Linked DNA regions of Homo sapiens. The protein of the gene in region 2 purifies or fractionates together with the protein of the main gene of each other region. This does not show direct contact. Each region holds a gene or a part of one and is shown on either strand. Other genes may lie near its edges. The genes, in order: LCP1, GLYR1 and NEFH.

Region 1 (3,750 bases), on a different chromosome or scaffold from region 2:
TCTCTTCTTTCTCTTGCTCTCTCTCTTTTATTCTCTCTTAAAACTGTGAGTGCCAAGATCTTGTTAGCTAGCTTCAGTAATAAAAGTCTATAATCACCTACCTCTGAGAAAAATATGCTGGCCTGGAAGGGAGGATCTGTAACACACACAGTCAGTAGGAGCCTGAAATCCTGGCCATCTACTGCCCCCCACCCCAACTGCCCAGTGACCTATGGCCGGTTCCTTCAATTATCTAGCCCATTCCTTATCTCTAAAGGTAGCTGAGAGGATTAAACGAGGTAATGCATAAAGAGTAGCTGCTTACACTACGTGCTCATAATTATTGAGTGCTATTATTAATTTCCTGTCCTCTCCAAGTTAAATGGTACTTTAACAACAAGTAAATGAGACTTTACTTGTTGGTCTTCCCTTCCCCAAAGGGTTCAGAGATAGAATTATAAATGAAGTTAAAGCACTGAAATTGTTTCCCAAATTACCAATTGTTTCAAGGCATAATTTACAAAAGAGACAAAAATTTAAATGCTACAAAGAAAAGGGTCTCTGGGATTGCTAAGGAAATGTCCTCCTAGGCACAACTCCATCCCACCACAGCAGTGCTTGTTCAAAGGGCAAGACCTAGAAGATTTTTCCCCTGATGTTCCTGGGGGTGAGCTAGAATGAAGAGGAATATCTTTGTAACATATGGGGTTGATGCTTTAGCAATGTAAACTTAACTTTAAACAGGGGACCTTTATATTTTGAATTAACTTTCGCATAGTTCTTTTTTATTCCTTCGTAAATATAAGAAAAATACTGACATTCCTTCACATTCGAATTTATTTTATTCTCATTAATAGTTTTACTTAAAATAAGACACAACATATTTTTAGTCTGTTCTTTTACGGGGTTCAAGTCCCTCTTATCTCAGTTTCACATTTTTGCTTGTTTGAAACTATTCAGGTGAGATGTGCAAAGTAACATTGGTGGTCACATTTTGCAGTTTCCAGAAATTCACATTTATAGGTAAATGATTAATTCTATTCAAATTTGTCTACACAGACATTCTTTAAACAATTATACTTAATAGAAACCAAACTTATGACAAATGTATGTAAATTCAAAATCAAGATGTGTGTGGATAAGCCACCTTTATTTGCTTACTGATAGTTCTGACAGAGTAATTTTAGAAAACAAGTTGCTGTGTAAAAGAAAAGTTCGGTTTTGATAAACATCCTGATTAATGTTCGCATTTCCAGTCTGAATGGCTTTTATAGTTATCATTTGTCAATGGTTCTTAGTGTTATGTGATAGTGGTAATTAAGTAAAAGCTTATACTACAAAATCCAAAGTGTCTATGTTTGGGCAGTTTCTGAAATAAATATCCCATATCAACTGTGTAAAAATTTCTATTGTAGATAAAAGCCTTTCTCCCAGAATTTGAGTGAATATTCATTGATATGGTCATAAGCATAACAAATAATTCAGACAATCCTACAAAAACACTACAATTAAGCATTATACAAATTGCTTTTATTTTTAGAGAACAAATGGAAAAGAGAAAACCTCTAATTCCATGTGGTTATAAAGCACACCCATTAAAAACCCTTGGCGCCAAAAATCACTCAAATAACCAGTATCACATTCAGTAACATATGACTCTAGATAATTTATCCACTAAAGTACTGTAAAGAAGTTTTTTAGAAAAACAGAACCGCAGGAACTAAAATTAAACTACCCCCATTGGGCCAATAAGCCATACAATCTAAATTATCAATACGCGCTTTTCCTGAAAACATTTTAAAGAAGATAAAATCACAGTAAATAGCCTCCGTGAAATAGAGCAATAGAAATAAACCAGAACATGGTTTGGTTTTAAAAGGAAAAAGAAACCTTAATTTTGGGCAGGGGTGATAACTGCAGATAAGTTGAGAAGAACCCAGCCCAGAGAGCCGAGGTGCTCCATCTTGGATGGCCACGCGAGGTGGCGGCAGATGTCCTGGCCAGTTAGACAGTGGCAGGAATCACAGAGGTCTCAGGTGACATGCTCAGATCTCTGGTCCCCTGAAGGCAAAACCCACAATCCACAGAAACAGTGCCGAAGTGCATCACAAGCGCTTAAAACCAACAAAAACACATGAAGAACATTTACCTTGCAGGAAAAAAGCTGTCCTTGGTAGTACTGGTGTATGACCAGGAACCCCTTCTTTCTGATCTGCAGAACAGCTTTGTCAAGCCTGGGTGTGTGGTCACAAGGCAGGAAGTGACTAGAATGACAAATCATCAGCCAGGAAAGAAAAAGATTTTGTCTTTATAAGGACATTTTAACTTTTTTTTCATGTCCCCGCCCCACCAAAAATCACCTGACAGAACAGGTCACAGTGAAATTCAGACACCTCCTACCACTTCCTCTTTTTTTTTTTTTTTTTTGAGACAAGGTCCCGCTCTTTTGCCCACCTCTTTATAAGCATTTTTCTCTCTCCCTTTCTCCTCCAGCTGTCTTTGAGTAGTCCCTGGGCTACTTAAACCTTTCTGATTCTAGATAGCAAGGCAAGATCAGCCTGATAACTTGACTTCTTTGACTCTAGTTGCAAAAGCAAAGCCCAGATGCCTACCTACTTACAGCAAAGATCAACAAATTTTTCATTTTTAGTGAAAGAGCCAGGGAAAAAGGTGGCAGTACACCTGAAACAAATGAAAAGGGACTTCCTTGGGAAAGCCCCACCCCACCTGAAATCAAACCTCTCTGGAGTCCTCTAACAGTGATCTTATTGGTGCAAACAAAACAGAACGATCTCTTTAAGTGAAGGACATGAAAAGGAAGGTTACTAGATTATTTACTCATTCTTTTATTTATAGAACATCTATGTGCTAGGGATCTCTTTAACCCAATTAAGTATCTCAATTATTTAAGCGTTTCCTATAAAGAGCAGCAGTAGATTGCACAGGCAGCTGTTATATTTAAATGGGTAGCTTAATTCCTTCTTACAGGCAGGATTTTTTTTTGAATGCACATTTTATAAAATTAGCAGGTGGTGGCAGGGGAAGCTCTGTTCTGTACCCAAACCCCAGATGCTTGAGGGCAAATTCCTATCTTCAAATGGAGCATCCTCAAGTGCTCACAACAGTTGTGAAGACTGTGGCACCCTGAGTTATGTTGACTAAATATTAGACATGTCTCCACATTGCCCGGAGACTGTGTGTGACTCCAGTAGTCAATCTGCCGTTTAGGAATGAGGGTATGTGGCTGTACTCCCAGGTCAGATGCTGCGCTGAAGATATCTGCTCCAGAGTTGACATGCGTCCGTGTCCGCTGGGCCACGGGCCTCTCAGGTGGTCACGGTATTCTGACTGGTTGGAGGGCTGCCCTTATACTTCTTTTGCTTTTTTGATTTCTCCTCTAGAAAGTTCCTGTTTCTGACCTTAAATGTTAAACCAAACTGTTCTGGTTTATCTACTTCATTAGCCAGTGGTGTGGTGACTTCATCAGAAGCCCACAGGGGCTATCTTGAGGAACTGGGTGGGCGGAAGAACAGGACGAGACGGTGGGGATTCTAGAAACGGTTCACCTCACAGAGAGCTATCAGCCCTCTTGTGATTTCCCAGGGAAGACTGAGGGGGTGATGGGACTCTGTTTTCTCCATCGCATAATCACTCCCAATTAATAAGTTGCAGAGAGCTTTCAAGAAGCACCTACATTCTTTCAGGACACCAGAGGAACATCCATGCATCACTGTTACAGCACTGCTCACGCTACAAAGCAGCAAAATGCTG
Region 2 (3,650 bases):
TATGTAATTTTTAATTTCAACCATCAATGTGTAACACATGAAAGTGAAAGTAGTCAGCTGTCAATTCTGGGGTTTCTGATCTGTCACACTAACCTGAACAAATCTGCTGCAGCTGGCTTTCTATGGCTTCCCTGAATGGCATGCAGCTTATAGAATCCAAGCACAAAATAATTTTATAGGCTTTACAAGGTATCAGTTAGTTTACATGTTTTAGCCTGTGATACAGGTTTCACAGCATAACCTTCAGAAAAAGTAGGTCAGGTTAAGGATACAGAAACCCAGCTATCTCACAAGCTTCAGGTTGTTTTCTTCATAGAAAGCTAGAGAATATTCACTAACAGCAAGTGTTAACCTTTGCACATAAAAATAATGTTACTAACCCTCCACCAGCTACCTGGACTTTGAGTGTGCTGCTGGTAGTTGTGATAATGGGGTCTGTGCAAAAACACAGACCTGGGATCATCGGCCTGCAGATGTCAGGCAGCGAACCACTATCAGGCATGCCACCATGGCTAAGTGAGATGATGAATGGAGATACAGAAGCTGGTCTCCCTGGCACAGCTCCAACTAGAGGAGTTAGGCAAATTCCTTTTTTTTTTTTTTTTTTTTTTGAGACGGAGTTTCACTCTTGTTGCCCAGGCTGGAGTGCAATGGGGCGATGTTGGCTCACGGCAACCTCGCCTCCTAGGTTCAAGTGATTCTCCTGCCTCAGCCTCCCAAGTGCTGGGATTACAGGCGTGAGCCACCACACCTGGCCTTTTTTTTTTCCTTTTTGAGACAGAGTCTCATTTTGTCACCTAGGATGAAGTGCAGTGGCACGATCTTAGCTAACTGCGACCTCCGCCTCCACCTCCCAGGTTCAAGCAATTCTGCCTCTATCTCCCGAGTTGCTGGGACTACAGGTATGCACCACCACACCCAGCTAATTTTTATGTTTCTAGTAGAGACGGGGTTTCCCTGTGTTGGCCAGGCTGGTCTTGAACTTCTGGCCTCCAGTGATCCACCTGCCTTGGCCTCCCAAAGTGCTGGGATTACAGGTGTGAGCCAGCAAACTCCTTTCCAGTGACCAACTCATCTTAAAGTTTGAAATTCAACATGAGAGCGCCAATGAGTCCAATCTGCTGGGAGGAAAAGTGGAAGGAGATTTCGACCCCAGATTTTCTGGCAAGAATATCCCTGAACTGACTCCGTTCCCTCTCCTTACAGGGATGCTAATGACAGGCCAGAGCAATCAGATGCAAAGTCAGACCCAGCCCCAAAAGCCAGTGAAGCTACCATACTAACCCGTGGGTCTGAGATGACACAACCAGTATCAAGGATGAAGCTTAAGGAGTCGTGACCAGCCAGTTCTTCCTAGGAGCTTCTGGTCAGAAGCTGAGAACCACACAAGTTCCCAATATAGGACCAAAAAGGTGATTTTTATGGAACCCCTTGAGATGGGACAACAGACTCCGAGACTTGCTAATCCCACCCACGCCATCCTGCTACCTCCATCCCTGCCTCCCACTACCCAGCCTCACAGGAACCCGATTCTGAGGGAACAGAAAGGTGAGGATGTCTGTGAAGTGCCAAGGAATCAACCCCATTTTTTGTTGAAGCATCTTACAAGGTTTACTGATTTCTGCTAGAAGGAACTGTACAGTCAAAATTCCACTCACTTTAAAGCATTTGAGATACTAAAATTTTCCTCTTTACAACCATCTTCGAAACATTAAAATGGCTAAATGAACTGACAGTATGAATAGGATGGTAAATCCAAGAAATGTTAATCTATTTAAGGAATCAACTTATTGCTGGAGAAGCATCCTGTTACATCAAAAAACAGCCATAAAAAACCAGCTTGGCTGGGCACGGTGGCTCACACCTGTAATCCTAGCACTTTGGGAGGCCGAGGCAGGCAGATCACCTGAGGTTAGGAGTTTGAGACCAGCCTGGCCAACATGGTGAAATCTCGTCTCTACTGAAAATATAAAAATTAGCTGGGTGTAGTGGCACGCAGCTGTAATCCCAGCTACTCGGAAGGCTGAGACAGGAGAAACACTTGAACCCAGGAGGCGGAGGTTGCAGTGAGCCAGTATTGTGCCACTGCACTCCAGCCTGGGCAACAGAGTGAGACTCCACCTCAAAAACAGTAACAACAAAAAAACCCAGCTTACCAGAGCTCTATGGGGATTACCTCTTGAAAGCAAACCAAACTTAAATCACTTTGGCTATCTGAATACAATTTTTTCTCTAAAGGTTACACTTCTTTCATCTTTTTTAAATTTATTTTTTATAGAGATGGGGTTCACCATGTTGCCCAGGTTGGTCTCGAACTCCTGAACTCAAGTAATCTGCCCACTTCAGCCACCCAAAGTGCTGGGATTACAGGTATGAGCCACTGCAACTGGCCTACCTCTGTCTTTTTAATGAGAATATGCTTTTCAGTTGGCGCCTCAACAATGCACCACTGTCTAATTCACGGAGGCACATCAGCCGGGCCTGGCACACCACTGGTCCTCAATAAATAATCACTGGGTAAATGATTCCTTCCCAGATGTTCAGGAGGATGTACTGCTCACCAGTGAGTTAAAAGGTGCTACAATGCTCCAGTGCGTAAGGCTTTAGTGTTTTTGTTGTTGCTACTGTTGGTTTTTTAAGTGACTGTTTCTTTCCTTGATAGAAGCTGTAACTTTTGATTTTCCTATCATCCTCCCAAGACTTAGATGGAGCTATATCTTTCAGCCCAATTGTGGCTGGGAAGTCAGAAAAATCAAGCTTATTCAAGCTGTATTTAAAGTAGGAGACTTTGCTTTTTATGTACAGTAGAATGAATGACACATTGTGATAGTAAATAGCTGAAAACAGGCAAGGTCATTACAGAGAAGGAAAGCGGATGTCTCGTAAGATATCTGGCTACGTGGAGATGAGCAAGATAAAAAGCAATGCATGTTATGTGCTACCACTCGTGCAAAGACAAGGAAAATGGACTGACCACGCACTGATATCTCTGGAGGGACACATCATCAGAAACTGGTCTAACTGGGTGGCTGTGGGATGGGGATGAATGCAACTGTTTCAATGTTGACAAGTTTTTGTTTTTGAATGGTGAACACATATTATATTGGAAAAAAAAAAAAAAAACAAAACAAATCAATACTAAAGGCCTCTGCCCTAGAACACAGGCTATGCCGACTGCCCAGAGGGTTTCCTCCATGACTTCCTGGTTTGCAGGTTTGCTCTGGTGGGTTGCTGCTGCCTGGCTGCTGGCATAACTGCACCTGTAACACAGCCAATTTACCCTGGTGACCTGACACTCTTCCTATAAAAAGTCTCTTCATCTATGAATACAGAACCGCCACTAAGGCACTCTCAGATTACTCCAATCAAAATGAATTAAAATCTGGTATTTTCAAAAACTTGCACACTTCTGATTTGCTTTCCTCTTAAATGAAAATCATACATGTAGGGCCCGGTGCGGTGGCTCATGCCTGAATCCCAGCACCTTGGGAGACCGAGGCAGGTGGATTGAGGCCAGGAATTCGACACCAGCCTGGCCAACATGGCGAAACCCCATCTCTACCAGAAAACACAAAAATTAGCCAGTTGTGGTAGCACACGTCTGTAATCCCAGCTACTTAGGAGGCTGCGGCAGGAACTGCTTGAACCCG
Region 3 (3,650 bases), on a different chromosome or scaffold from region 2:
CTCCTTCTCTGGGGTGGGGACTTTTTTCTTATCTTCAGCCTCTTCCTTCTTGGCTTCAACTTTGGATTCTTTGGGCTTTTCGACAGCAGGTTCCTTCTTCTCCTCCACCTTGGGCTTTGGAGCCTCCTTCTTGGGTGCCTCCTCTTTCTTGCTGTCCTTCTTCTCCTCTGTTTTTGGTGTGGCAGGGGCTTTCTCTTCCTCTGCCTTCTTTGGGGGCTCTTTGACTTTCACCTCCTGGGGCTTCTCCTCCTCCTTCACTGGGGACTTCACCTCTTCCTTTTTTGGGATCTCCTTCTCAGGGGCCTTGGCATCCTCCTTCAGGGGAGATTTCGCCTTCTCTGGGGACTTGACCTCCTCCTTGACAGGGCTTTTGGCCTTTTCAGGGAATTTGTCTGCAGGGGACCTTGCTTCCTCCTTCGCTGGAGTCTTGGCTTCTGGAGACTTCACATCAAGAGTCTTGGCCTTCTCTGGGGACTTGGCCTTCTCTGGGGACTTAGCTTCTTCCTTCACTGGGGACTTGGCCTTCTCGGGGGTCTTTGCTTCTTCCTTCACTGGGGACTTGGCCTTCTCAGGGGACTTTGCTTCTTCCTTCACTGGGGACTTGGCCTTCTCAGGGGACTTTGCTTCTTCCTTCACTGGGGACTTGGCCTTCTCAGGGGACTTTGCTTCTGCCTTCACTGGGGACTTGGCCTTCTCAGGGGACTTTGCTTCTGCCTTCACTGGGGACTTGGCCTTCTCAGGGGACTTGGCCTCTTCCTTCTCTGGGGACTTGGCCTTCTCAGGGGACTTTGCTTCCTCCTTCGTTGGAGACTTGGCCTTTTCCGGGGACTTGACCTCAGCTGGAGATTTTGCTTCTTCCTTCACTGGGGACTTGGCCTCAGCCGGTGACTTTGCTTCTTCCTTCACTGGGGACTTGGCCTTCTCTGGAGACTTGGCCTCAGCCGGTGACTTTGCCTCTTCCTTTGCTGGGGACTTGGCCTTCTCGGGGGACTTGACCTCAGCTGGAGATTTTGCTTCCTCCTTCTCTGGGGACTTGGCCTCAGGCGGTGACTTTGCCTCTTCCTTTGCTGGAGACTTGGCCTTCTCAGGGGACTTGACTTCGGCTGGGGATTTTGCTTCCTCCTTCTCTGGGGACTTGGCCTCAGCCGGTGACTTTGCCTCTTCCTTTACTGGTGACTTGGCTTCCTTCTCTGGGGATGCAGCCTCTTCTGCTGGGGGAGACTTTGTTTCTTCTTCTCCCCCTTCTGCCTCCTCTTCTTCACCCCCTTCTTCCTCCTTGCCCTCCTCCTCTTTGGCCTCTTTCTCCTCTTCTTCAGTCACTTCTTCAGTCACTTGGGTCTCCTCTGTCTGTTCCTCCACAATCACAGTTTCTTTCTCAGACTTCTCCACCACTTTGATCTTCTCTTCGCTTTTCACCTTTATGTGAGTGGACACAGAGGGAATTTTGGGGAGTCCTTCTGGAAGCGAGAAAGGAATTGGGCCAAAGCCAATCCGACACTCTTCACCTTCCAGGAGTTTTCTGCAGGATGGATCACGGAACACATTAGTATAAACTCAGGGCAAATTCACTATTTGGGTTCTTCCTAGACTATCCTGAAGGTCACTGACATCGAATGATATGGGTTTTGGTGGAACAGGAATGTGAATGGTGGGCATTATGAGACTAGAGAAAGTCACTTGGCAAATCATTCCAGTGACCACCCAGAATGTGTACCCCGGTGGGACTGGTCTTTTTTTGTTGATGTTGTTGTTTTTGAGAGGGTCTCACTGTGTTGCCCAGGCTGGAACAGCTGGTCTTCTTCAACACAGCTAAGCCTGAAACTTTTGAAATAAAACAACTTTTGCCCCATAAAAAATGGCCCTCAAGAGAAAGCTCCTAAATAAATTTAACAAAAGTTAAATTTATTGTCCCTCAAACTAAAATATTATTCAAGAGAACCCTGGGAGCCTGAGCAAACAATTCCACTTTTTTTTTTCCTTTTTTTGAGACGGAGTCTTGCTCTGTCACCTAGGCTGGAGTCCAGTGGTACAATCTCAGTTCACTGCAACCTCTGCCTCCCAGATTCAAGCAATTCCCCCAGCTTCAAGCAATTCTCCTGTCTCAGCCTACTGAGTAGCTGGGAGTACAGGCGCACGCCACCACGTCCAGTTAATTTTTGTATTTTTAGTAGAGACGGGGGTTTCACCATATTGGTCAGGCTGGTCTCGAACTCCTGACCTCAGCCGATCCACCCGCCTAGGCCTCCCAAAGTGCTGGGATTACAGGTGTGAGCCACCGCACCCGACCACAATTCTACTTTTATAAATTTGGGTTTAAGAGGTCTTAGAACGCTCCCATTTGAATCGCGAGTGTCTCTCATCACCCTGTATTACCATCTTTTGAGTTTCAGGAATAGGGTAGAGGCCGCAGTTTCTCCTCTTGGCTTTGCTCCTCACTAGATGGGTGACCTTGGCCAAGACACACCAACTCTTTGAGCCTCAATTTCCTCACTGGAAAAAGAGGGTCATTAGAGTCCCTACGTCAGAGGGTTGTTTCAGTGAGACAATGAATGGAAAAGACTTGGCAGAATGCTTGTCTCAGAGTAAGTGTGGGGGTTACCCCTCAGACTAGTACTTCCCAAATTTAGCAGCACACAGATGACCGGGGATCTTATCAAAATGCAGATTCTGATTCAGCAGGTCTGGGGAGGGGCTGAGCGTCTGTCTTTTGTTGTTGTTGTGTTGTTGTTATTTTTGAGACAGTGTCTCACTCTGTGATGACAGGCTGGAGTGCAGTGGCACGATCATAGCTCACTGAAGCCTCCAACTCCCAGGCTCAGGTGATCCTCCCACGTCAGCCTCCTGAGTAGCTGAGACTAAAGGCATGTGCCACCATGCCCAGCTATTTTTTTTTTTTTTGTATTTTTTGTAGAGATGGGGTTTTGCCATGCTGCCCAGCTTGGTCTCTGAACTGAAACAATCTGTCTGCCTTGGTCTCCCAAAGTGCTGGGATTACAGGCATGAGTCACTACACCCAACCAAGAGACTATCTTTCTGATAAGCTCTTGAATGATGCCAATTCTGCTGGTTCATGTGCCATGCTTTGAGTAGCAAGATTACAGACGAGAGCCAAGAGGTAGGAAGCCACAGGTCACCAGTCAGAACTGGGACAAGTCCTCAGGGAATCAGTCCTGCTCCCTAGCCCTGCTCCCCCCGGTCTTATTCCTCAGACTGGATTTCTCAAGGCTGCCACTGACTAAGGGTTCCCTCTGTAGCAGCCCAGTGGTACCTGTGCTTCCTGGATTAGCTTGGGAATGGGATTAGCTCATCTTCCTGACAACCCTATGACATGGTTGCCCTTATTATCATCTCCACTTTATATCCCCAAGAAATGAATGCTTGCAGAGCTAAGAAACTCTAAAGGACAGAGTTTGAAAGGTCCCTGACTCAAGCACCTCTTTTCCCTTCAAAGCAGGCCTCTGGCTGGCTGGATCTGGGGAGGGGATAAGGAACTTCCACCGTCTAAATCATTTCAGAATGAAAGTAAGTCACTCTCAAGACTCATTGGCTGGGCACAGTGGCTCACGCCTGTAATCCCAGCACTTTGGGAGGCCGAGGTAGGCGGATCACCTGAGGTCAGGAGTTCGAGACCAGCCTGGCCAACATAGCGA

Evidence for each region.
Region 1: the proteins of GLYR1 (region 2) and LCP1 purify together in Homo sapiens (affinity purification with mass spectrometry; 2 studies listed by BioGRID and IntAct, with this or other methods). This does not show direct contact.
Region 3: the proteins of GLYR1 (region 2) and NEFH purify together in Homo sapiens (affinity purification with mass spectrometry, with the first as the bait; one large-scale study listed by BioGRID). This does not show direct contact.

Annotation. Positions count from the first base shown.
Region 1 is NC_000013.11:46,179,983-46,183,732, forward strand, and holds the start of LCP1 (plastin-2), read right to left. Parts: upstream 2,196-3,750; 5' UTR 2,129-2,195; exon of another isoform or gene 1-2,128.
Region 2 is NC_000016.10:4,833,707-4,837,356, forward strand, and holds part of GLYR1 (cytokine-like nuclear factor N-PAC), read right to left. Parts: intron 1-3,650. UniProt on the Homo sapiens protein: Cytokine-like nuclear factor with chromatin gene reader activity involved in chromatin modification and regulation of gene expression. Acts as a nucleosome-destabilizing factor that is recruited to genes during transcriptional activation.
Region 3 is NC_000022.11:29,486,718-29,490,367, reverse strand, and holds part of NEFH (neurofilament heavy polypeptide), read right to left. Parts: intron 1,520-3,650; coding exon 1-1,519. UniProt on the Homo sapiens protein: Neurofilaments usually contain three intermediate filament proteins: NEFL, NEFM, and NEFH which are involved in the maintenance of neuronal caliber. NEFH has an important function in mature axons that is not subserved by the two smaller NF proteins.